3 linked regions of the Homo sapiens genome follow. The protein of the gene in region 3 binds, or shares a complex with, the protein of the main gene of each other region. Each region holds a gene or a part of one and is shown on either strand. Other genes may lie near its edges. The genes, in order: CPSF6, CPSF7 and NUDT21.

Region 1 (9,286 bases), on a different chromosome or scaffold from region 3:
GCATGGTCTCGATGTCCTGACCTCATGATCCGCCTGCCTAGGCCTCCCAGAGTGCTGCTGGGATTACAGGTGTGAGCCACTGCACCCGGCCTACCTTTAATAACTATTAGCTCCAGTTTTCACGTTCTACAAATAACTTCTGACGGTATTCTTAGGTTAGACGCCTAGGTAAGATTCTTGCATTTTGTGTTAAGATAATTTTTTCCCCTTACTTGAGGAAAGCTGAAGAGGTCATGATGTAAAATGATAACCTATTTCAGGGGGAATAAAGAGCTAAAGTGGTACACGGGACTGGTTTCTATACTGTAATGGGGAGGGGTCCAATTTCTAGACTCAGTGCCTACATTTTCTGCATGTTAGACCCACCTACCTCATATCTGACAGCTATAGTAATTGTGTAGGTAGAACCTGTATTTACATGAGACAAGATACCACAATAAAATGCTATGGCCTATCTTACACAAAAGTATCTAACACAGTATCTTGTAGAGTAGGTACTCAACATTTGTGCAAATGAAAAATTTAAAGTAGTATGTTCCTAAATGGTTAGTTTGGGTATCAGTAAAGCTTAAAATCTTACAGGGGTGGTGGCTCAGTATCATGACATTCAGTAAATAACTGAAAATTTAGAATCATAAAATCATTCTAACCTCTACTCACTATATTCTGCTAGTCATAACCTTTCAGAGCCCATTACCTCCCTTTTAAAAGTAGAACACTGGCCAGGTGTGGTGGCTCATGCCTATAATCCCAACACTTTGGGAGGCCAAGGCAGGAAGATTGCTTGACCCCAAGAGTTTGAGACCAGCCTGGACAATATGGCAAAACCCCATGCCTACCAAAAATATAAAAAAGTTAGCCAGGCATGGTGGCATGCACCTGTGATCCCAGCTACTCAGGAGCCCGGGGTAGGCTGCAGTGAGCCATGATCACACTACTGCGCTGCAGCCTGAATGACAGCAAGATCTTGTCTCAAAAAAAGAAAAACAAAAAAAGAATACTAACTGTCTTATAGGATAATTAAGAAACTAATGAAGCAATAGGTACAAAAACAATTTTTAAAAAATGTTGATGGTTGACCAGGCACAGTGGCTCACGCCTGTAATCCTAGCACTTTGGGAGGCAAAGCCAGACTCATCACTTGAGCCCAGAAGTTCGAGACCAGCTTGGCCAACGTGGTGAAAAACCGTCTCTACTAAAACTACAAAAAATAAATAAATAAATAAATAAATAAAAATAATAAAAAAAAATTGGCCGGGTGTGATGGCTCACACCTATAGTCTCAGCTACTCGGGATGCTGAGGCTGAAGAATCACTTGAACCTGGAAGGCACAGGTTGCAGTGAGCCAAGAATGCGCCACTGCACTCCAGCTTGGGTGAGAGAGCGAGACTGTCTCAAAAAATAAAATGTTAATAGCAATCCCCTAAAAAACAACAGGACAGCATCGGTGATTGTGTTCTTCAGCTGGGTTGACAACCGTTAAAGTGAAAACTGATGAAGACAATTACTGCCTTCTCCGTCCCATAGCTTGATCCATCTACCCTCTCCCAGGGGATGAATGTGTTACTAGATGGACTGCCACCATAAAAATGGGAGCCTTATCTTAGATAGCAAACCCTGACAATCTCACAGATAAACACTGTTACTTCTAAACTAAGCCATGCCCACACCACAATGCCCTCAATTTCTATTTCAAAGAAAACATAAGTCACTAAATATGACATCTTAAAATTTCTACCACACACCTACAGCCCACAAACTTCTATTTTTATCTACCCTTATCTTCTCTCCTGACAGGAAGAGGTGTTTCTCTTTTATCTATTCTTTTATCAATTTAATCTGCAGCCAAGAAGCTTTTTGAAATGTTGATTATGACACTTCACACAATTCAATGATTCCACATGACTCTTAGGACAATCTTTAATGTGACCTACAAGCTCCGGAGAGCCTAGCCTTGCCAACTGCTTGAGCTCCACACATAGGCTATGTTCTTCACTCCCTGCTTCAGCCAAACTGGCATTCTTTCAGTTCCTACTAGCATGCTCCTCTTGCCAAAAGCCCTTTTTGCAAGTCTCTGCCTAAAAGGTACTTCCCTTTCCCATTCACCATTTTTTTCCTACAGATCTCAGTATAACATTAAAGTAGTAAATTTCATTTTTTAAAGTTTTTCTATAAAATGAATATAGATTTTTGAAAGGTAAAGTATATATCATTTATCTGGAACTGACAATAGTTTATCAGAACTGATGTACCACACGAAAATCCAAGAACTGTTAATGAACTATAAATGGGAGAAAAAGACCAACAACATCATTGGAAATCATTTCTAATAATTATTGTTTCATGGTAATGGCTCTGAAACAAAACTAGGAAGACTGGGAAAAGTCTGTCCATAAATCTTTTGTAAAAAAAAAGCTTCTCTCTTTCACTAAATTAGGTCTTGAACTGAGTCATATGTAGTGTGGCATCTGGCCAAAAAATATTCCTAATGATCTTCTCTTAAAGTTAAATGACCTCACAGGGTAGGGACGAGAGTCTCAACTAATTCAACACAAATAGGGATTGATCAATGGAAACATACAACAAACAGTAACAGGAAATCTAACAAAAATCTGAACCACAATTTTAGTGGAGGCATGGAAAGGGATCCCAGTGATGGTAGTATTATTTCTCATGTTCATATTCACTTGTTTAGAACTGTTACCTTTAATACTCTGAAGCTTGCAGGTAAGAAATCTGAGGCCTGATATTAATACCTGGCACAGAAATATCTACTGAAATCACTGAAACTGAAGTCTGTTACTGTTTCAAAAGTACCCCATAATGTTTCCAAGCTAACCAGTAAAATATTTTTGCTACAAACATTTTTACTTAAGTCTAGTAAGGTTAATGATCCTCTAAAACTAGACAAATGCTTTCTGAATCTTCCATTTAAAAACCATGTAACAGCCTGGAAATCTGTCAGGCCTCTTAATCCTAATTTTAGCCCAATTATCAGTCGCTTTAAAGAGCACCAAAATGTCAATACACAAGAAAACCACCACTATCTGGCTTAAAGATAGAATACAGACAACAGTCCAATTTCTGCTATACTGCATATTGCCAATAAACATTAACTACTTAAAACCATACACAATGGTTACCAAATAACAAATTAAACAAAAAAGACAAACTGCAAAGTCTTATCAAAAGTTTGTTTTATTTTCAATACAAGATAAATACCATGCTTGTTACTAGTGCAGTTTAAGGCCGACAATGGCCATATATCAAACTGCCGAACAGTCACCTAAATGCTAAAGAAAGGAAAGACAAAGTAAACATTAAACACAAAATTGCAATTACAAACATTTTAATAAAATGGAATGAGCTTTTTAATTGAAGCTAATATGAAGTCTAATTCTCATGGACAGCAAAAAAAAAAAAAAAAAAGTCTATTAGATCAATTATCACCTTACCTTTTTGCACAGAAATCTTATTGTGAAGTCACCATAGAGTCAATAGCTAAAATTTTAAGACTTTCTTTGGCCTTCTGATATTAAACAAATTATTTACAAACTGTGATCAGTAATTCGTGGATATTGGTAAAATGATACAATTTTTTGTTGTTGTTGTTAAGGGCTTTCCATTAAAAATTGTAAAACAACTTTGTAAGGCTGTACAGGGCTGTAAACTACTTTGCTAATATACCATGGGATGCAGAGGAAGGAATAATAGACCTTTTTTTTAAGGCTAAAGTTATCAATGTTATAGATGCATTCCTTAAAATACATTATGATTTATACCCAAAGGATCCTTTCCCATTAAATACCACCTGAGTACTACAATTTTCAAAGTAAAAAAATAAACATGAATTCACCATAGTTATTTTAAAATAATTTAACTTACAGAATGTTGAGAAGTGTTACGCAGTAACAGTGCGACAAAAAGAACACACTTTCAAAACAAAATGTTTTCGCTAAATGCAGGGTCTGTCCAATTATGAAATTAATGTAAAACATTTACACCCATGGCAGAGTTTTAGGATACTCCCACGTGAAAAAAACTCTTGGTAGTATTTACTATGCAGTTACCACTTCAAGATGTGTGTGACTTCAATTAAATTCAACCTAGTATTTAAAAGACTCCATTACAATATGTTAATACAGCAGGAAGTCTTTAAAGACATTAAAATCTGTCGTATATAATCAAGTATTTATACGTCCCATACAAAAACCATAGTAGCTGCATACTCAGTGAATGCCACAACCTGAAATTCTAAAAAAAGAACATTGGTTAAGACAAACCTAAATCAATCTGAACAGTGTTGCCTGAATATTTAGAATATTCACAAAAATTCATATTGCTTCTTTCTAATGCCAAGAAAGAAGAGTATAAGAACTTCCTCCCAGAAGCCTAGACATTTTAATACATTTTCTATTTCAACTTACAATGAAACTTTAATCCTGAATCTTGATTTATCTAAATCAAAAATCTCACATTACGAACACAAGGAATGCCATATGTAAGGCCACATCTTAATAAATTTATAATTTTTGGTTGAATATTTATTGAAAAAATCAGTCTAAGGCTTCTAAGAGTCAAGTTGCTTAAAAAAATAAATACACCAGTGTTTAAACTGAAGTTAAGGTTAAAAAAACGCATACACACACACACACACACACACACACACTGTAAGAACAGAAAAATAGAATGCTTTGCTACAAAAATCCCACTTAATATATTTTAGCACAAAAATGTCTAATATACACTGGATAAGCGTGCATTTACGTACATACAACTAGGGGAAACATTTACAGAGGGCTACGGGATGCAAATGAACTTAATGAGTAATAAAAACCAGTTGTTATCTGTAAAACAGAGAATCTCAATACTGTATTCTCAGTCAAGAATTAGAACATAAACTTCCTCTTAAGCTGAAGCTTAAAACACAAAATTGGAGCCATTTTAGAAAATACAGAAAATGCAATGATCATTCAGGTATGAAAACCAAAATGTCGAGAGCACTCCAACAGAAAAGTCTTGTAATGCATCTCATTGTATAAAACAGTATGTATTTAGATTGGCACAGTTAAATACATAAGGGAAAGAGAAAGTCTTTGCCCTTTCCACAATTTTCCTTCACTATAAAATATTATACAACATTCATTAAAACCTCCATGTTTATTTTAATAACTGACCTGAAACTAGTAAAAAATAAAGCAATATTCTCCACAGGAGAATTAAATGAAAATAGTATCTTAAGCTACAAGTTATCTGTGTATTCCAAATTGTCATTAACTGCTTAAGAACATTCTAGGTAAAAGGACCATTAAATGGGCTAAACTATGATCAAAAGCCACTGCAACTTACTCCAAACCTTATGAAAAGTGACAAAAAAAAAAAACACACATCTGCAAATTTACACTGGAATATGCTTTCCACAACATAGTTCCTTTAACCAAAAGCAGCACTTTCAATCCAAAGTGTTGCCTCAGAAGCAGTACCATTCAGGTACTGTATCACTCATCTGTTTAACTTTACTACTGGCTGAAAGGAATGTGACTGTATAGCACTAATAAATGCTATGTTTTAAAATTCAACTCGTTTGTTTTCACATCCACTACAGTTATTAACTAAGGAAAAAATGAAAAGGTCTCTGAGACACTGTTTTTGGTGTCTATGCAAGGATTTATCTCTTTGGATTGTTTTTACACATTAAAAAAAGGAAGAGTTTTCAAATAACATTAACCCATAAACAACTGAAGGGGGTATGAAGAACAAAACAAGGCCTGCAATTTTCACCTTTACTGCTATACATTCACGTGTTATCAGGTAGAGAAGGACTTTGCAAAATTACTTGGTCAAACCAAGAAGTTATTTCCTTCTGACAACACTTAAAATAACGGATTAGCAGCAAACAAATCTAGTACACTCACACTGTCTGTAACGAAAGTCATGTAATGAGATCAGCCAAGCAAGGAGAAGAGTGATATAGAAGGAGCAATTAAAAGGTTCCATTGATAAAATATGAAAAGGTAAATAAAGGATTTAATTAGTATAAAATTTCCAGTTTCATTTCAAGTGCAGTTAGATTTTTGTGATTCCATTTTTAAACTGTTCAAAGAAAATTTTATTTTCATGGACATTTTACTTACCTTTTAACCCTTTACTATTAACTAATTTCTCTTGTAATATTTATATGTCCATACTTCTTCGCATTAGGGCATTGTAGTCAAAATATTAAAAAGCCAAGAAATGACACAACAATATACAGAAAACAGGAAAATTTTGATACAACTCTAAAATAATGTTAAAAAAGCAACCGCATTTTCAACAAAATGCTTTAAAAAATCATTTCTGAAAGTGAACAGTTCTGATAAACATCAACGATCCCATGCACAGATACTTCAAACACAAAATATTTTAAAATAAAACTGGCAGTGATATGGGTAATTCAAAACAGCTAATTTTGTCAGAAGTGGTTTGATAGCAGACAAGATGAAAGTGAAGAACAGCAGTGGAAATTTCTGGAGGGTTTCTACAGTTGCACATAACACAGTATCTAGGGTATTTTAACACTTTAAGCATTGTCCTAGAATTTGGGTACTCTTTAACAACCAATGTGTATTAACAGAAGATCTCTCAAAGATAATCAGATCTTAAAAACATATTAACGTGCTCAAGAATTTTAAGTCAAATTTCTGAAGTAGTGATTTCAAATTACATTCCCATAAAAACACCTAATCAAGTTGACACCCTGCCTCTGCCAATTTTGCAATCAAGAACACATGCTAGTCAGGTGCTTTTAAAGTGGGCCTATATGTAAGGCAGGTTTGAAAAAAATCTTTGATTAAGTAACTATAGCATGAATCAATACGGTGCATGAATATACATAGTATTCCTTAAACTGTGCAGACACGGTTTATCTGTAATTTCCCATTACAAATACTGGGGAATACAACCGAATGTTAATGAACATCACATCCTTCAAAAATTTATACCAATTGGAAAATATAAGGCTCTCTTTACTCACATTTACCTGCTGCAGGGCTGTATTTACACTGACTATGGCTTAAGAAATAAACCATAAGATCAATAAAAACAGCAAGTAATTGCAGCATCAAATCGGAATTGTCAAAATTTCTTCAATGTTAGCGGTTCACAATTAAGTGTTTCGGTACATCTGTGTTGTAATTAACCTGCATTACACATCAAATATGTACGGGTTTTTACTTATGTGTTAAAACCTCTGTTTTTTTGACCCCTTACACATTGACTAGATTGCTATGTCTGTCAAATCTCTATTTTTACAAGTTTACATACCATTCAGCAAAGTCACAAGCTAACTAGGTAAAAACAGCTAGAAAAGCAGAATATAGAAATATTAAATATCCATGTAATCACCTATTCTAATATCAAAATCAAGGGCAAAAGACACTTAATTACTATGTTTAATTCACTGAACGCAAGATTAGATTGAGGCATATCCAAAAACGCTATTGCAATGCTTTAAAGGACAGTAAAAATGTTGTCATAGTAACATTATCTTTAGATATTGCTGAACACAAGACTTTCCCTGAGGTGTAAACATCAAATAACTTGAACAGCTTTACACATCAGCCCCATTAAACAGTTTATTACAACACTACATCTATTGTAATCAAAGTGATGCTGTTTACAGACATTATCATATAAACATTTTTAACAAGAACAAACTACTACAAAAACAAGCATTTACTTGACTTTTTTTCCAATTGCTTGCACATCATAATGGCCAAATGTATATAACCAGTAATAAAGTTGCAAAAGCTATAACTTTTTAAATCACACAGGTTTCCTTCAAATAAAACAGTTAAGCAACATAAAAAATAAAAGTAGAGCTACTGGTTACCATTTATGCAGATTTGCTTTATTCAGATCTATTCCTGTTCATTTTATCCATGAATCCTTACAGGTTCAGTTCAATCACAAGAAGCAAACTGCTGGACAAGCGTCATTTTTCCCCCATGAAGACTGTTTTGTCTTGGAAGGTGATCCTCTTCCTTCAGCTGTAATGTGTCAAAATTTGTGATGTAGATTTTGCTATTCCCCAAAATACACAGAAAAACGCTGGCTTAACTATACATACACAAGTCGTGCATCTACTTCACTGTTATGTATTCTAACACAAAATAAGAATTAACTGAAACAGTAGCTGCCTTTGTGGTGGTGAAATGTTCCAATTTACCTGATGATTAAACTGAGACATTCTGATTTCATTCTTCTTAAATATTATTGCCTTATAAATTTAATGACTGAAGCAGTAATGAAAACATAGCAGCTACTGTTTCTGTGATGATGGAAACATTCATAAGTCATTTTCTAAAATATGCATACTACAAAAATAAATGGAAAATGCTTGGATGATTTTTATGTAAATATTTTTCATTCACCCACATATCAAGTCTATAAACTCATTTAACAATTAAATGCTGAACTAAATATAAAATGCAAAATTATTTTACAAATTAATTTATTTAACAGCATACAGGAACTTCTGCAAGTATTATAAATCAAATGGTGTTCCATGTTACAAAATTTGTAAGTAAGATTTATAAATAGAGTATGGACATTTAAATTAATGACATCCACGTACAAATCTTTAGACGTAATACAAATTTAAAACATTTACTTTACTTTTAGTCTATTCCACCTATATAGAAATACCTAACGTAGTATTATAAACTAACCAAAACAAGCTAAGTGGGAATCTACAATGATAAAGTTCATTTAAAACTCACATAAAAGAAAAAAAATAGAATAAAGTTGATAAACTAAAATTTAAAGAATACATATATATGCAAACTTCAGGTAGAGGTTCACAAGAAACATTCAATTAACTTGGATATAAGTAACCACTGAAACAGTCGGTAATGAAAGTATAAATGACAAGAAACCACTTCAATAATAAAGTGATTTAAGAGTCAAGAGGGCAGAAGGTTTTTTAAAATTTTTTTTCAGTTTGAACATGTTCATAGGGCACAGTTTAGTGATATTTTGAAATAAAAATAACTGAAAAATACTTTTTGCTCTACAATTAAGAGTTACTTCTGCCACTGCTATAAATTTTTCTATTATGTCCTTTCCTAGGTTGTATCTTAAGAGCATCAGTACATATATGCATTCACACTGCCTAGCAGTAATAACTTAAAATTTTAAAACTGCAAAAGAAAAAAAAATACAATCCAGACTTCTCTTTTATATATATAGTTTCTATATGCCTGTATCTTTCAGATAACTTCAGCCATTACTATTGTTATCTTTTAT
Region 2 (12,319 bases), on a different chromosome or scaffold from region 3:
TTGTTCCATGTAGTCAAATCCATCAAAAAGGATTGTGCATAAAAAGGGTCAGCATGTAAAGAATGAGGAGAGAAGCTAACACTGGAGAGGACAGGGTGGATAATAAAGTAAGGTGAGGTCAGCTAGGGCTAATGAGTGGGAAAACATTTTGTGTGTAAGTAATCACTATAAAATATTTCATAGCTGTTACGTCTCAAACTATCCCAACTCTATAGACAAATCACTCTTCTATTCATGTACCAGGTATGGTGAGTTGCTCCTGTGGTTCAAGGTAGAGAAAGGATTTATATACATCACTTGATCCCATCCAATGCTCAAATCCTTAGAAAGCACTACTTCACACCAAGATTCTTCTTTTTTTCTGAGATAGAGTCTCACTTTGTCACCCAGGTTGAAGTGCAGTGGCGCAATCTTGGCTCACTGCAACCTCCGCCTCCTGGGTTCAAGTGATTCTCCTGCCTCAGCCTCCCGAGCAGCTGGAATTACAGGTGTGCACCACCACACCCAGCTAATTTTTGTATTTTTAGTAGAGATGGGGTTTCACCATGTTGGCCAGGCTGGTCTCTAACTCCGGACCTCAGGTGATCCTCCCACCTCAGCCTCTCAAAGTGCTGGGATTACAGGCGTAAGCCACTGCACCCAGCCTTCTTTTTTTTTAAATCAAGGATTTTCAAATGACACGTAAACAGAATAAGGAAACACATCATCTTGGATAATCGAATGGAACCAAACTGAGATTCCCTTCCATGCAGTATCTGTAATTCAGGTATATGTGTCTAAAATTTGTAATGTAAAAATGATCACTGAAAATTGAGTAGTGGACTAACATGCAGATTTGGACAGCTCAGAGACCAAATGCATCACCAGGAAACCCTTCGTACTATATGCTTAGGCAACCAATCCACTGTTTTAAGATCCCTTAAGAATAGGATAGACTAGATCCTGGAGAATCTTGGTATGGCTACCACTTTTAGAAACAAAAGGATTGAATGAATACAAAATTATCACAAGATTTAAATGGTCTCTCTGGGCCACAGAGCCTCAGTTCAAAGAAGCTGGTGGGAACTGCACAGGGCAGGTCTGTTGAGGGTTCTACTGAAGAAACAAGGTATCAAATTGTTTGGATTTTAATCCCCCAGCATCACAATTCATTTTACTTGTTCAGCTAGTAAGACAGAAACACAGTTAAGGGCCGGAGATTTTTCTCAGCGGATTTATGCAGTAATAGATTAAAGTAAAATCAAATTCTACAAATTAAGTGAAAAGTACATTTTACATGCACTGATGTTCAAAGTTTCATTCCAGGGAGATTAAACATGAAACATATATTTAATACTGAATAACTATCTCAAAGAATTTTGTGTTTAATGGCACAGAAAGAACTGTGACTGTCTCATGAAACTTCCTGCTTCCCTGTAAACAAAAGAGAACATGTGTGATTTTCAATTTAAATAAGATCTTCTCCACTTGTCTGCTCAGTGTTCCTAACCTCCACCCTCTTCTTCCTCATATCCCACTGAGGGAAGTAACTAGCCTAGGATTTATTTTTCTCAGAGCAACCAACTTGATACCATTGTTTCTTTTAATTGTAACCAAGGCTTAATCAAAAATTTTGGCTTTATAATGACCATTTCCACAGTTCCCACTTCACACCCTCCTTGTCCTTCACTGTACATTGTCGTTGTCCACCACCCCTACCCACCAGGAGTGGAATCTGTTTTGAGTACAGGGACCCACTTTTTTTTCCTTTTACCTCACTAGTCCTGGCACAGTGCTTAGCAAACACAAGTAGCTCAATAAATAAATACTTATTGATGGACATAAGGAAGAGAACTGGACACTGTGCAAAGCCTGTCTCAGTATGAAAAGCCAAAACTCCCAGCAGAGCAACTGATCTCAGTCACCTTTCCAGAGTTCTCCCTGGCCCAAGAGAGCCAATGTGAATCCCAGGACTCCCTGTGTTACAGGAATAAAGTAGCTCTGGCAAAAACAGGCTTTTGCAGCAAATGCTCTAAGAGATCAGGGAATAAGCACCATAGGGTTCCATCTAGGAAAAATATTAATTTTCCTTGAGGAGCAAAGTGCACATGAAGGGCTTCCTGTGCATGGGCCAGCTTGGGGCGAAATCAGTAACATTCTTAAAACATTCTAAAACACAATTTGTACTGGGTGCCTTCAGACTAAGCCAGCTTCTAACAATTCTAGCCAAAGTTTTTTTGTTTTTTTGTTTTTTAAATAATTTCTGTAGCTTCCAGATGACACTAACACTAACTTTGTCAAAAATAACTAATTGATATGTGTGTGGGGGGGAAGCACTCATCCCTCACCTTCCACAAAACATAAGATATTCAAAATTCACACTTTCTTCAGCTTGCCTAGTGTCAAATATTGCCCGTTGGATATATGTATCTATTAAAGTCCACATACTACCTTTAGCCTGTCTTAGACCCATAAAAAAGTCCTTTTTAACTGAGGAGACCAGAGAACAAACTATTGAGGCCAATAACTTATACTCTAACAAAGCAGTGACCACTGGACAATGAGTTCTGCGTATTTCTCAAAGTGAAATGAATGGCACTATTATCAATCCACAGATAAGAAATTAGAAGGGGAAAAGCTTTTCATTAATAACAAAGGTGGCTGGGTACGGCGGCTCACGCCTGTAATCCCAGCACTTTGGGAGGCCGAGGTGGGCAGATCACAAGGTCAAGAGATTGAGACCATCCTGGCCAACATGGTGAAACCCCGTCTCTACTAAAAATACAAAAATTAGCTGGGCATGGCGGTGCGCGCGCCTGTAGTCCCATCTACTCAGGAGGCTGAGGCAGGAGAATCATTTGAACCTGGGAAAAGGAGGTTGCAGCGAGCCAAGATGGTGCCACTGCTCTCCAGCCTGGCGACAAAGAGAGACTCTGTCTCAAAAAAAAAAAAAAAAAAAAAAAAAAGAGAAGAACTAAGGACCGCTCTTGTTATCTTGGTGGGGGAAAAACATAATCTGCAAAAAGTCTGAACTGGGCAGAGTGGCTCACACCTATAATCCCAACAGTTTGGGAGGCTGAAGTGGGAGAATCGCTTGAGCTCAGGAGTTGAGAGACCAGCCTAGGCAACACAGCAAGACTGTGTGTTTTTTTTTTTAAGGTATTAAAAGTCTGATTCAAATGAATATGGAAAACTCAGGAAAACAATGATTTTGTAACTAAATTAACATCTAGAACTTTTCTCTTTTATCCATAATTATTGGACTTATTTAAAACTAAAAAATTTTTTCGCCATGCACGGTGGCTCACGCCTGTAATCCCAACTTTGGGAGGCTAAGGCGGGCGGATCACAAGGTCAGGCATTCGAGACCAACCTGGCCAACATGGTGAAACCCCGTCTCTACTAAAATTACAAAAATTAGCCAGGTGAGGTGACCCACGCCTGTAGTCCCAGCTACTCAGGAGGCTGAGGCAGGAGAATCACTTTAACCTGGGAGGCAGAGGTTGCAGTGAGCCGAGATCGCGCCACTGCACTCCAGCCTGGGTGACAGAGAGAGACTCTGTCTCAAGAAAAAAAAAAAAAAAAAAGGAAAATTCATCTATTTAAGATAATCAGCAGCTATATTTAAAGGACCACAGTTAACCACAACAGAGACAAGAAACCTGCCATTAAAAAGTATAATTGGTGAAGCTGTATAATGGGTACAAGGTCATTACATTATTCTGCTTTTGTGTATGGTTTATAATTTCCATGTTATAAAACCATAATACATCAAAAAATAGATTTTCATGTAAACTTATGCCAAGTGAAAAATAAATGGCATGTATCCGCCTCTTCTGTTGCCTCATATCAAAGTCAGGGTCAAACCAGGGAACTTTCCCTTTCTAACCCATTCAATACATGCTCTTACCAGGTCCTTATGTGTACCCACTGGAAGATGCAAATGGGAAGAGCCAGCTTACTTACATAGAATGGTGCTGAAAATAACCCAGGCAAGATATTAGTACGTTTTCAATAGAAATTTTGGAACATTCTTGAGAATTGACCTCAAGACTGAAAAACTTAACTGCATGGAAGATTATTTCTTTGAGAGAATTTTTCTTGTGTTTTTAAGAGTCAGGGTCTTGTTCTGTTGCCCAGGATAGAGTGCAGCGGCCCAATCATGGCTCACTGCAGCCTTGAATTCCTGGGCTCAGGGAGTACCTCTTGCCTCACTCTCCAGAGTAGATGGGACTACAGGCACAAGCCACCATATCTCGTTGTTGTTTTTTTTTACATTTTTGTAGACTGGGTCTTGGTATGTTGCCCTGGCTGGTATTGAACTTCTGGTCTTAAGTAATCTTCCCATCTCAGGCTCCAGAGCAGCTGAGATTACAGTCAAGAGCCACCTTGCCCAGCTCTAGATAAATTTCTGTATAATGTTCCCTGGTACAATAAAAACAAATCCAACTGAGGGTATGTGCATGGGTCTATTATCAGTTTTCTAACTGGTTTGTCTAACGTCTTTACTCTTTTATTCCCTCTAGAAAGACTAAAGGTAACCAATACAATTTATTATACCAAAATGCCTGTGGACTTCTCATGACTGGAGTCAACCTACTTATAAAAGGAAGTAAAACTTAATTGGAATGGAGTTGAAACTAAATGTTAAAGTCATCTTTTCTACTTTGCTTTTGCACTGTCACGATGGAGGGGACTACACTTCTCCAGCTGCAGGTTGAGAATGTAAAGGAACCGGTATCAACACTGTCCTCATGAATACCGTAGCAAATGTACTTTTGATTTTTAAGTGTGGTTAGTCTGACACCCACCTTTGGCTTCCTGGGGAGTAAATTCCACAGGTTGATTCACCATTCTATTACACCTGCTTTTTATTTGCTCTTAAATCAAAGCCTTTAAAATTAAGCCTGGAGCTTCAAATTAACATAAAGAGGAATGGAGTGTAGTCTTTAAAGTTTCTGCAGGAGAAAAATTTTAGACCGGATAGACGCGTGTTCAAGCCTAGGACTGGTACAGCTTGAAACCACTGCCAGTTTGCTGAAAATGATTCCTCAGATGATCAAGGAAAATCCCAAAGCTCCTGATGACACCTCACCTGGTTGAACTCCTCGTCAGCATATATATCAATCAAGTCCACTCCTTCTGACATGGCTCCGGAAGGAAGATCGCGAGTCCGGAGGATGGACAAAGTAAGGAAGATGCCACTGCGGGATTCGGAAAAATGCAAGAATTAGAAGGCACGAGGGTCCTGGGCTGGGAAGAGGGTAATGATTGCTAACCTCCCATCTCCAGAGACGCAGCATCCTGGCGGCCCCAGCTCGGCCCCACCCGCTCCGCCCCGCCCCCGGCCTCGCGCCGCCCACCGCTCTCCCAGGCCGCCGGGGGTCGCTGCCCATCACCCTCGGGCCCGACCCGGGTAGCGCCGCGTCTGCGCCGCAGCTGCCTATGGCGCGACGGAAAAGTCCCACCCTCGGGTCCTAGTGGCCCTAGGACGGCGTTGCGAAGAATGACCGCGGCGAAGCCCGCAGCCCCTATCCGCTGCACCTGCCTAGCCCCCAAGGCGGCTCCGGCCAGAGCCCCCAGGTGTCAAGCAGCTCCAGCCGCCTCTGCCCCCAACCCAGGCCTACTCTTCGCCCCCAGCTAGGCCCGCCCCGCTCCCTCCCGACAAACCCGGCCCGGCGCGCTCTGCCTCCTCCCTCAAAAGGCCCGCGACTCCCTCCGCCCGCAGACTCCGGCCGTCCCATCTCAACCGACCCCCTTCCCGCCTCAGTGCCGGCCCGGACCCCTCTTCCGGCCCAACCTGCCCCCGACCGCGCGCCCCCGTTACCGGGAATATGGCGGCGGCGGCGGCGAGTCCGGACTAGGCCCGAAGCGCGCGAACCGCTCTCCGCCCCAGGTCCCGCCCCCCCCGCCGCCGGCGTCACACGCACCGCCACTTCCGGCATGCGCAGGGACGCACCTTCCGGCTCAGCTCCTCCGTGGCTGCCGTGGTCGGCTGGCCGGGCGGCTAGGAGTTCCCGGAAGTGCCCGCGCAGCCGGTTTCCGGTGCAGGTGGGGAAAATGGCGGTGTCTACAGTGTTCTCGACTTCGTCGCTGGTGAGGAGAGAGAACGTTCTAGCGTCCGGGGCGGGCGGCAGCGGGGATTACCCTTTGTCTTCCTCTGTGGTCTCTATCTTGGGGAGAGTTCGTCTGCCCGATAGCGCAGGGCAAGGGCAGGCCCAGGGAGAGGCCGATCCTGCAACTCAGGAAATAAAGGTCGCTTCCATTCTTTGGTGAGCCTACTGTGTGCCGGTCTGGAAATATCTGCTTAAACGATCAGTCATCGTCCAAGACCCAATTCGCCTCTCACCTACGTCCCAGGCGGGATTAGCCCAACTTCCCTGGGCTCCCCTTCTCCCCGTTCTTTAGTCTTTAATGCTTTTCGTGGTTTCACATAGTATCTTCAGCTTTTTGTTTGTTTATAATTGACATATAATTGTACGTGTTTATGGGGGTACAGTATAATGTTTTAATACATGTGTACATCGAATAATCAAATCAGCGTAGTTAGCATGTCCATCACCTCAAATCTTTATCATTTATTTACGGTAATAACTTTTCAAGATCTTTTTCTAGCATCTTGACATATACAGTACAGTGTTATTAGCTGTAGTCACTCTAATATGTAATAGAACACTGGAACTTATTATTCTTTTTTCCTAGCCTGCTGTTATAAAGTAACTAACTTTGCCTCTATCTTCCCCTCCTACCCCCATCCCTATCTTTATTCTTTTTTTTTTTTCCTGCAGACCCAGGGACTCGATCTTTATTCTTTTTTGATGTAGGCGTTTACACTATAAACTTCCTTCTTAGTACAGCTTTTGTCGCATCTCATAATTTTGTATATGTTGGGTTTTAGTTTGTCTCAGGATATTTCCTTTTTGTTTGTTTTTTGTTGTTTTCCTTTTTTTTTTTTGAGACGGAGTTTTGCTCTTGTCGCCCAGGCTGGAGTGCAATGGCACGAACTTGGCTCACTGCAACCTCCACCTACCGGGTTCAAGCGATTCTTCCGCCTCAGCCTCCCAGGTAGCTGGGATTACAGGCATCGCCATCATGCCTGGCTAATTTTTGTATTTTTGTAGAGATGGGGTTTCACCTTGTTGGCCAGGCAGGTCTCGAACTCCAGACTTAAGGTGATCCGTCCTTCTCGGCCTCCCAAAGTGCTGAGATTACAGGCGTGAGCCACCGCGCCCGGCCTGTTGTTTCCCTTCTTTTTTCTTTTTTTCGTAGAGACAGGTTCTCACTATGTTGCCCAGGCTGGTCTCAAACTCCTGGCCTCAAGTGATCCTCCTGCCTCAGCTTTCCAAAAAGTGCTGGGATTACTGGTGTGATCCACCATTCCCGGCGTGTCTCAAGATATTTTCTAATTTTCCTTTTGATGTCTTCTTTGACTCATTGATTGTTCAAGAGTGTGTTGTTTAATTTCCACATATTTGTGAATTTTCCACCTTTTCTTTTGCCATTGATTTCCAGATTTTAATAAAATGTCTCTTGTGCGGCATATAGTTGAATCTTTTTTTTAATTCATTATATTCAGCCACTTCATGTCTTTTGGTTGGGGAGGTTATGTTATGTTATGTTATTTTCTTGAGACAGAGTCTCGCTCTGTCGCCCAGGTTGGAGTGCAGTGGCATGATCTCGACTCACTGCAAGCTCCACCTCCTGGGTTCACGCCAATCTCCTGGTTTAGGAGTAGCTGGGACTACAGGCGCCCCCCACCACGCCTGGCTAATTTTTTGTATTTTTAGTAGAGACGAGATTTCACCGTGTTAGCCAGGATGGTCTCGATCTCCTGACCTCGTGATCTGCCCGCCTCAGCCTCCCAAAGTGCTGGGATTACAGGCGTGAGCCACCGCGCCAGGCCTGGAGTTTAATCCATTTATACCTAAAGTAAATAGTGGCCGAGGTGGGTGGATCGTGTGAGTCCTGGAGTTCGAGACCAGCCTGGGCAACATGGCAAAACCCCTTTTCTACTAAAAAAAATTAGTCAGGTGTGGTAGTACACACCTGTAGTCCCAGCTACTTGAGAGGCTGAGGCGGGAGTGCGTCTGAGAAGTCAAGGCTGCGGTGAGCCTTGATTTTGCAACAGCACTCCAGCCTGGGCATTGGAAGTGAGACCTTGTCTCAAAAAATAAATAAAATAGGGAAGTACAATCATCCCTTTGTATCCATGGGATGACTGTTGTAGGATCCGCTGTGGATATCAAACTCTGCAGAAGCTCAGTCTCTTATATAAAATGGCATAGTATTTGCATATAATCTACACACATACTTCCATATCCTTTAAATTATTTCTAGATTACTTATAATACCGAAAACAATGTCAAGGCTATGTATATGCTTGTTATACTATATCTTAGTTGTTTTTTAATTGTTGTATTATTTATTTCTTTTGAATATTTTTGATCCACAGTTGGTTGAGTGTGCAGTTGGTTGAATTTACAGGTGTGGAACCCACAGATACGGAGGGCCAACTGTGCTTGCTGTTGCCGTTTTGTAAACTGTTCTCTGTCTTACAACCTTTTTGCTCCTCTTTTCCACTCTTGTCATCCTTTATATTTCGTTGACTTTTTTTTTTTTGTAGTGACATACTTTGAGAAACGAATTTCTCATTTCCTTGTGTGTCTTACACAGGTATTTCTTTGTGGTTACCATGTGGCTTATATAAAACATAACAATCTGTTTTGATAACTTAATTTCCATTGCATACAAAAACTCTGCTCTTTTATGACCCCCTTGTATGTTGTGGATGTCACAAATTACATCTTTTTATATTGTCTCCATTAACAAATTTTTATAGTTGTTTTTATACCTTTGTCTTTAATTTCTATACCAAAATTAAAAGTGACTTACATACCACAGTTACAGTATTATAGTATTCTGTACTTGTCTCTCTCTATATATTTTTTTAATTTAATTTTTTTTTTTTTTTGAGACGGAGTCTCGCTCTGTTGCCAGGCTGGAGTGCAGTGGCGCGATCTTGGCTCACTGCAACCTCCATCTCCTGGGTTCAAGCGATTATCCTGCCTCAGCCTCCCGGGTAGCTGAGACTACAGGCGCCCGCCACCATGCCTGGCTAATGTTTTGTATTTTTAGTAGAGATGGGGTTTCACTGTGTTAGCCAGGATGGTCTCCATCTCCTGACCTCGTGATCCGCGCACCTCAGCCTCCCAAAGTGTTGGGATTACAGGCGTGAGCCACCGCACCCGGCCTCCAGTGATAATTTAACACAACTCATACCAGTATCACACAATTCCCTGGAACTATGTGACAACCATTATTGTTTCTTTTATGGAATGCTGCCTTGATACTAACAGAAAAAAATGGGTGAAATTTGGCTAAAATAATAAGACATCCCAATTATTAGAACAATTTCCTTGTACTGATGAGGATAGTCCTCCCCATCCGCATTCATTTCTGTAGAAATTACTCAATCATGTTATTTTAGTATAGAAAGTAGGAATCCCTGCCTTCAGTCTGCATCAGAATCTCTTAGAGGGTTGTTAAAAATTCATTCGTCAGGGCCCAGTCCTAGAGATTCTCATCCAGAATGTTTATGGTGGGGCTTGGGAATCTGAATTTTCATCGCATGCTGTATTAGTTTACTAGGGCTGCTATAACCTGTGTGGTTTGAAGAACAGAAATTAATTTTCTCATAGTCCTGGAGGCTAGAAGTCCAAGAGCAAGGTGTTGGCAGGTTTGGTTTCTTTCGAGGCCTCACTCCTTGCCTTGCAGATGGCCACCTTTTCACTGTGTCCTCACATTTCTCTGTGCATGCACATCCTTGGTGTCTCTTTTGTGACTTTTTAAAGACATAGGATCTTGCTTTGTTGCTCAGGTTGTACTTTAACTCTTGGGTTCAAGCAATCCTCCCACCTCGGCCTCCCAGGTAGCTGGGACTATAGGGTCATGCCACTGCACCCAGCTTTTTCTGACTTTTGACAGTTTGATTAAAATACGTCGCAGTATGGACTTCTTTGGGTTCATGTTAATTGAGATCTGTTAGGCTTGAATCTGGATGTCCACTTCTTTCCCCAACTTTGGGGGTTTTTAGCCATTATGTCTTTTTTTTTGAGATGGAGTCTCACTCTATCACTGAGACGAGTGCGATGGCACAATCTCAGCTCACTGCAACCTCTGCCTCCTGGGTTCAAGCAATTCTCCTGCCTCAGACTCCCCAGTAGCTGGGATTACAGGCACGCGCCACCATGCTTGGCTACTTTTTGTACTTTTAGTAGAGACGGTTTCGCCATGTTGGCCAGGCTGGTCTTGAACTCCTTACCTCAGGTGATCCGTTCACCTCAGCCTCCCAAAGTGCTGGGATTACAGGCATTAGCCACTGAGACCAGCCAATTATGTCTTCTAATAAGCTTTCTGCCCCTGTCTTTCTCTTATACGACTCTCATAATGTGTATATTGATCTCCTTGATGGAGTCCCTAAGGCTTTCTTCACTCCTTCTCATTCCTTTTTTTTTTTTTTTTTTTAGAAAAAACCCTGACTAATTTCAAATGACCAGTCTTTGAGTTTGCTGACTCTTTCTGCTGCTTGATCAGGTCTACTATTGATTTTCTCTAGTGAATTTTTTAATTTATTTTAATTTTTTAATTTTTTTTTTTTTTTTGAGACGGAGTCTCGCTCTGTTGCCCAGGCTGGAGTGCAGTGGCACGATCTCAGCTCACTGCAAGCTCCGCCACCTGGGTTCACGCCATTCTTCTGCCTCAGGCCTCCCAGGTAGCTGGGACTACAGGCGCCCGCCACTATGCCCGGCTAATGTTTTGTATTTTTAGTAGAGACGGGGTTTCACCATTGTTAGCCAGGGTGGTCTTGATCTCCTGACCTCTTGATCCACTCGCCTTGGCCTCCCAAAGTGCTGGGATTACAGGCATGAGCCACCACGCCGGGCCTAATTTTTTAATTTTTATGTATTTTTATTTTTTAGAGACGGGGTCTCACTGTGTTGCCCAGGCTGGTTCTCGAACTCCTGAGCTCAAGCGATCCTCCAGCCTCAGCCTCCCAAAGTGCTAAGATTATAGACATGAGCCACCGTGCCTGGCCTCCTCTAGTGAATTTTTCAATTCAGTTACTGTATTCTTCAGCTCCAAAATTTTCATTTGGTTATTTTTTAATGTTTTCTGTCTTTTTTTTGGTTTTCTCATTTTGTTCAAGCTCAATGTTCAAGTTCTCAATGTTCCAAAGCTCATTGAACATCTTTATTATGGCTAGTTTGAATTCTTTATAGGTGATTCATATACTTCTGTTTCTTTAAGGTTAGTTTCTGGAGATGTATTTCGTTCCTTTAATAGGACCATGTTTTCCTCTTTATTCATGTGCTTGGTAACTTGTACTGGTGATTTCTACATTTGAAAAATCATCTGTCTCTCCTGGTCTTTGTACTGGTGATTGGCCTTCACTAGTCAGCATGGATAGAGATTCCAAGGGCCTCTCAATCCTTTACTGAGGATGTGTCTTTTCTGGACTTGCGGATGTAAATTCCCATTTAGAGGGATTTGCCGGTTTCCTTTTTCAGGAGCCCATAATCTCTTGCTCCCTCTAGTGTCTGCGTATGATACTGCAGTTTCTCTGGAGCTGCTACAAGTCTCCCAGCTGTCGGTGGCCTCCAGACTTTTAGAGTATGCCATGTCCCATCAGTGCCCCAAGCTGGGCAAGACAGAAACCAGTCCCTCTGGTAGCTTCCCCAAAGGACAGAATGTTACGACTGGGTGTGGTGGCTCACGCCTGTAATCCCAGCACTTTGGGAGGCCAAGGTAGGCAGATCACCTGAGGTCGGGAGTTCGAGACCAGCCTGACCAACATAGAGAAACCCTGTCTCTACTAAAAATACAAAATCAGACGGGCGTGGTGGGGCATGCCTGTAATCCCAGCTACTCGGGAGGCTGAAGCAGGAGAATTGCTTGATCCTGGGAGGCGGAGGTTGTGGTGAGCCGAGATCGCGCCATTGCACTCTAGCCTGGGCAACAAGAGCGAAACTCCGTCTCAAAAAAAAAAAAAGTCAGAATATTAGATGCACACTCCACTCCCCTCAACCCTGGGAGAGGCCACTGGGCTGTATTGGCCTTTCTCTGCAGTTTCAGGGATCCTCTGGATCAGCAGCAGGCCACCCAGGCATTTAGAGTGTGCTAGATCCTTTCAAGTGCTTAGAGACAGAAACCAGTCCCCCAGAGAGCCCCAAAAAGCTAGAATGTTGGATGCATACTGCACCTGTTTCCCTCCCTAGGGAGAAGCTGGGAGGTGGGAGTTTTCTCCTGCTTGTTCTGCACTGAGCCAAGGATGAGTGATGAG
Region 3 (5,700 bases):
ATATATTCCCGTATTTTGGGTAAACTTTCTATTTAAGATAACATTGAATTACACAGTATTACATATGCAGCAGGTATGGTGTGTGTCATAGAACATTATGAATTCCAGGCAAGTTTGAGAAAAAAAACTAAAGGAGTCAACCCTCCCTTTACAGATGAGGAAACTCGGACTCAGTCCCCAATGATATGGACTACACACAGTTAACACAACTGTGTAGCAACTTCTAACTTGTGGCCTTCATGTTCCAAATCTAGTGACCCTTTCACACCTCAGGAAACTGAAACACTGCTAACACACAATGGGAGGAGGGAGTGTGTGGGGCACAAGGAGAGGGCAACATCAGTGACCCAGGCCATCAGGCCCTTGCTATTATGCTAAGCTGTCTCTTACCTAAAGGCCCTCGGCCACTCACAGTGACGAACCATGCAAGATTTCTACTAGCACAGTAGGATCAGCAGCCACACATACAGGACTACTATCCCAAAACAATCACAGAGTCATTCTCTTTCAAATATTTTTTATTGAAATGACAATAAAATAAAAAAAGAACAGTGATCACTTTAACCAAACTTACTTTACAAATATAAAAATATAACCAAAACTTGTTTCTTTTATACATTTGCCATAAACGTAATACCAGAAAAGTTCTCAAAACCAAACTATAAATGATGCTTGAATACTATGATGTGAACACAATAACCAAAAGTTTAAATTTCTAAATACATGACCTTTCCCTCAACAGAACAGCATAATCAATATATCTTCCCAACTTATCTCTATTTTTACGATATGATCCATTACTAAGATACAAAATACACCTGAACTGGCCTAATCTAGAGTTACCTAGGTTTTAGTAAGTTTTTTTCCACAAAAACAAGCTTAATAACTATAATACAAGCTAATATTAAAATGTGTTTTATGGCTCAAATCAAATTACAGTATTAGGTTTCTCATCACGATTTGAACAAAAGCAAACTGCTTGAAATGAGTCCAGTTTAACCCAAATAATCAGTGATGTATAACAAGTGAAGTAAGTATGGGAAAATCAAATCTTATGCTACAGAAAGCTGACTTATACTACAGTCAACAACCACTAAGCCTTCTTTGGCAATGAAACATACAAAATTGCAAACTCTGATGCAGTCTCAGTGATTGGCATATACTGTTCCAAACACTATGAACTAGTAAAAACATTAAGTTTGAGGATGGAAAAGCTACCCCAAGCATTTCATCTCAAGTGACTGAACAAGTACTGTAAAAATAAAGTCATTAAAAAGCCGAGAACATAAGAGCACAACATTTAAGAAAGGGAATTTTAAGCCGATTGCTTGCTGGCCTGTTGAATTTGAAGTACTTCTACCTCTCACTTCTAATTAAACATGGAAGAAAACAGACTGGCTAATTTGGTCACACTTTGTCCAAATACAGTGTTAACTTAATGGAACCCTTAAATATCCAAAATAATAAGTGAATGCTATTTATAAGACAATAAAAAGTTTTAAAATCTTCCAAATGTGCTGTTAACAGTACAAATTCAAGTGCAGAATTATTACGCCATTTTAAGTATTATCTACTTTTTTAAAAAATCACAGTGGTCTTCATCACATGGCGAAAAAACAAACTTCACTCTTCTCCAAAGGGATAAGTCCATCCTAAATGTAACTACAAACAATTGTATAAACCTTTATAGTTTTTCCCCCTAATCTACTAAACATATTCCAGTGTCATTTAGTAGTTTTACATAGAATCTGCACTATACTTGGATACTCAGGGAAAATAAGATGACATATATTGTAGTTTTAGAACGCAAAAGAGCTTTCATTTTAGACAAATATACAACATAGAAGCCACTAAAAAATATGGGTCTATTAATCAAGAGCCCATTTCAAAATGATAAGAGCATTTAGTATGTAGATCTGGAATGCACAGTTTCTGGAAGTATTAGAACTTAGTGTTAAACAGTGCCCTTATACCCTCTTCTAATACTGTAGACACCTACCAACCAGATTTGATTTCCCCTAATTCTATTATTTCCATCAGAAAACCAAAAACAGATTATTGGGGATCCACCTGTAACTGACCAGAGCAAAAAGTTTTTAAGACTTCCGTTTGTGTGTTGCAACTTTTACATTCAAAACCAGATCTCTTACATTTCAAGGTTAGTAACCCAGCCATCCTGAATCAAAGGTTTTTCTCAACTAGGCCTTAGTGTATGGATGACTGGCTCACGTACTTACTGTATATTGGGAAGAAGTGAAGAAGTGAGAAGTGAAGAATTTCTTGGTCAAAGTTTAAGTTACAAAGAACATGAGTGGCCTCGAATCAGATGACTCTTCAACTCAAACACTCCTTACTGAGAGTACTTTATAAAACACACAACAAAAGTCTACCTCTCTCCACCCTCCACAAATTGCAAAAGTGAACATCTGAAATGTGGCCACTGTAGCTTTTCCCTCAAAAGCAATCATGGAAGGTGAGCTGAATCAATCCATCTTCATATCCACTTCCTCCAATCTAAAGGAATAGCTGAAGGACGCAGCTAATGGATGAGCTTACCAGCAAAATACATTACATGAGAAATATGCTAATGTAGGCTAGAGGGGTAGGACTGTTAGGGGCAGGAGGGAAAAGGACAATTCACAGAACTAGTGGCTTTTTCAAAGGAAACTGGGGCATTTTTGATCATGGAGACTGGTGCTCACCTACCATGAAGGACATGCACAGTTAGTCACTACTTAACCACCATGTGAGGGTTTGACATGACCCCAACTAAAAAAACTTGAGTGTTTATTAATTGCTCAGCTACACTTGGCCTGATTTCCTCAAGTATCATATACCTTTGACATCACCCAATATTCAGGAAAATAGCCCTGTGACTGGCACCATACTAATCAAAAGTTCATTTCTATTAAAAACCCTTTTTTCCTTAAGTAGCTACATCTGGCAAGATTCCTTTTTACATTAAGCCTATAGTCAACAAGTCTGTAATAAGGCATACATGCTATACTTTGATCATTAAATAATGACACAACCAGCAAACTCCTTTGCTCTAATATTTTTTATTCCCCCAAATTTGATCCGAATTTATCAGTATTTTTTAAAGTTTTTAAAATTTCGTTTTTCTCTTAACCTGAGAAAACCTGTCCTCTGCCTTGCCCCCAGTTTTCGGTTGATTCACATTATTCCAAAAATATTTTTGAAGGCTCTGTCATTTGCTAAAACCAAATTTTCTTCTCTATGTACACAACTTCAAGTTAATTGAATATTTGTGCAATCTCAGAGTTCAAAACCTAATACATCCAATTTTAGAAATTTCCTTCACAGATCCCTATTTTTACCATGGCTTTAAGAATAAGACACATAATTTCGCAACAGCACAAATAATTAATACCCCCATTATGTGAAGAAAACTCTGAGCTCTAAATGAGTCTCTTCTTATACCAATTCCTATGACTACTGATCGAGCCAATTTTAATAGTTTCCTGTATGTTTAAGGTCTGTTGCTTGCAAACCAAGGCCTGGATGGTTATAAAATGTACTGGTCAGTGAATTATACTGGGAGTTCTCTGCAACACAATTCATTTAGGAGTTGCACCTTGGACTCACTCAGATAAATATAGTTTTCAGAAGTAATGGAAGCTCTTCATCACAAAAATCTAATACAATCTTGGAGTATGTGCCCAAGAATGGTATCAAAGCAAGGGTCCAATAAACTTGACTGACTTAAACCTGTCATTGTGTTGCAACATTCACCATCCTAAGGTGGGGGGAAAAATGATCCTCACCTATAAGAATTTTAGAAGTTTAATGAGAAATTAAAATAAAAAAAGTCCATTTTCTTTAATGTTGTACAAAAAAGTATGAGCAGAACCGAAAGTAAATAAACATTATCACATTTGTTTACACCACTATCTAGTTCTTCATATTAATTTTACTATTCAAACAATAGAAAGGTGGCAATTTAGGGATCGCAAAAGAGATAAAACCAAAAAAACTTTTCTACCACATTTATTCTACACTGTATATAGCTGTGCTCACAGAGACAAGCGGCTTCTTTTACTTCTCCACTGCGCAGGAATTCAGTTGTAAATAAAATTGAACCTGAATTTTAAAAAGAACAATACCTTTATTAAAGACAGTACATACTACTTTCCATATTAGATAAATAAATTTATCTGGATGTTTCTGCCCTCCCTTAGCATGTCTGGCATTTTCTTTTTTTCCCCTTCGAATGCCTTTTTACCACGTTTGGCATTTTCTACACCAATTTTCCCTCACTGGTCACATCTTACACACTAAAAACACTTGTTGAATACTTATAATAAAAAAAATTAAGACTATAAATTTGATTAATTATCCACTAATAAGTTCTTTAAGGCAGGAAAAGTTTCTACATGTCCTTATACTCTGACTACTCAGCACAGTTCCTGCACTTGACAAGTAGGTGTTTGAATAAATAATATGACTCTTTTCCCCCCATATGCATTTCAACTTGTAACCTATCAGGAGGCCAAAGTGGAGTGGCAAAAGATAAGGTTTGATTAGTGACGAAGTAGAAAGAGCAATTTCATACTCAATAAGCTTTCACAAAAGGCCAATTTCACTAACATTTATTAAGTATGTACCAGATTACTGGCACTGTTGTAAGCATTTTATATGCATTATTTCACTTGGTCCTCATAATCCTCTGAAGTAGAGACTACTATCCCCATTTACAGAAGAAGAAACAGTCAAATAGGTATAATAGTTTGTTCAAGGTCACACTGCCAGCAAGTACTGAGGTTGGGCTTCAAATCCAAAACACTGACTGCAGAATCTACTTTCATAACCACCATGTTATTCTGCAATTCCTATATATGGCTGGCTCTAATAGAGACCTCAACCAGTACAAGTCAACTTTTAAAAAACTGCATTTCTTATCACTCTAACTGCCTAAAGATTCAAACCCCACGTAAAAGTTCAGGACCTAATCCCACAAGCCTCAATTTGGGCCAAAATATAGTAAGTTTCAAAAAAGGAAAACGAATATATTACACCAAGATATTCGATTTGCCACCTTTTTTTTCTTTTTTTTAGATGGAGTCTCACTCTGTCGCCCAGGCTGGAGTGCAGTAGCGTGATCTCAGTTCATTGCAACCTCTGCCTCCCGGGTTCAAGCAATTCTCTGCCTCAGCCTCCCAAGTAGCTGGGATTAAAAGCGCTGGCCACCACGCCTCACTAATTTTTGTATTTTTAGTAGAGATGGGGTTTCACCATCTTGGCCAGACTGGTCTCGAACTCCTGACCTGGTGATACACCCCCGCCTCAGCCTCCCAAAGTGCTGGGATTACAGGCATGAGCCACTACATCCAGCCAATTTGCCACATTTTAATACAGACAACTCCGCTCATATTTACACACTGTTGACTGCTATTTAACCATCTCTTTTTTGAATAAAGACATCAACCTTAACTCTTGAGAATATCAGAATTAGGGAAGAGCAGTTGCACAAATACCAGAATGTCATGCCGAAACTTAAGAGTCTGGGGATGGTATTAGTCACAATTAATCTATGGCTTGCACATGATCTAAGAGTCTATCTACTTTCTTAGTTTCCTTAAAGACCAAAATTCATGAACTATACCTTCCCAAGTGGCTCAGAATATTTTAAATTTGACAGTTAATATGGATGAACCAAAAAATGTTCAACTTTCTGTACCT

What was found.
Region 1: the proteins of NUDT21 (region 3) and CPSF6 are in contact, whole or in part, in a crystal structure (PDB 3P5T), measured with the Homo sapiens proteins. Residues at the interface, in NP_008937.1 of Homo sapiens: Pro151, Asn152, Glu154, Pro156, Tyr158, Tyr160, Pro162, Ala163, His164, Ile165, Thr166, Lys167; in NP_008938.2 of Homo sapiens: Trp90, Trp91, Thr92, Thr93, Asp94, Glu95, Lys113, Phe114, Glu116, Asn117, Arg118, Ala119, Asn120, Gly121, Gln122, Ser123.
Region 2: the proteins of NUDT21 (region 3) and CPSF7 are in contact, whole or in part, in a crystal structure (PDB 3N9U), measured with the Homo sapiens proteins. Residues at the interface, in NP_008937.1 of Homo sapiens: Arg68, Asn152, Glu154, Pro156, Tyr158, Tyr160, Pro162, Ala163, His164, Ile165, Thr166, Lys167; in NP_001129512.1 of Homo sapiens: Trp91, Trp92, Thr93, Thr94, Asp95, Gln96, Glu112, Lys114, Phe115, Glu117, Asn118, Arg119, Ala120, Asn121, Gly122, Gln123, Ser124.

Annotation. Positions count from the first base shown.
Region 1 is NC_000012.12:69,268,254-69,277,539, reverse strand, and holds the end of CPSF6 (cleavage and polyadenylation specificity factor subunit 6), read right to left. Parts: intron 8,029-9,286; 3' UTR 3,182-8,028; downstream 1-3,181. UniProt on the Homo sapiens protein: Component of the cleavage factor Im (CFIm) complex that functions as an activator of the pre-mRNA 3'-end cleavage and polyadenylation processing required for the maturation of pre-mRNA into functional mRNAs.
Region 2 is NC_000011.10:61,424,108-61,436,426, forward strand, and holds the start of CPSF7 (cleavage and polyadenylation specificity factor subunit 7), read right to left. Parts: upstream 5,869-12,319; 5' UTR 5,807-5,868; exon of another isoform or gene 5,724-5,806; coding exon of another isoform or gene 5,650-5,723; intron 5,184-5,649; coding exon of another isoform or gene 5,129-5,183; coding exon 5,075-5,128; intron 1-5,074. Other genes in the region: SDHAF2 (succinate dehydrogenase assembly factor 2, mitochondrial), read left to right, coding at 6,040-6,075.
Region 3 is NC_000016.10:56,428,633-56,434,332, forward strand, and holds the end of NUDT21 (cleavage and polyadenylation specificity factor subunit 5), read right to left. Parts: coding exon 5,699-5,700; intron 4,102-5,698; coding exon 4,080-4,101; 3' UTR 501-4,079; downstream 1-500. UniProt on the Homo sapiens protein: Component of the cleavage factor Im (CFIm) complex that functions as an activator of the pre-mRNA 3'-end cleavage and polyadenylation processing required for the maturation of pre-mRNA into functional mRNAs.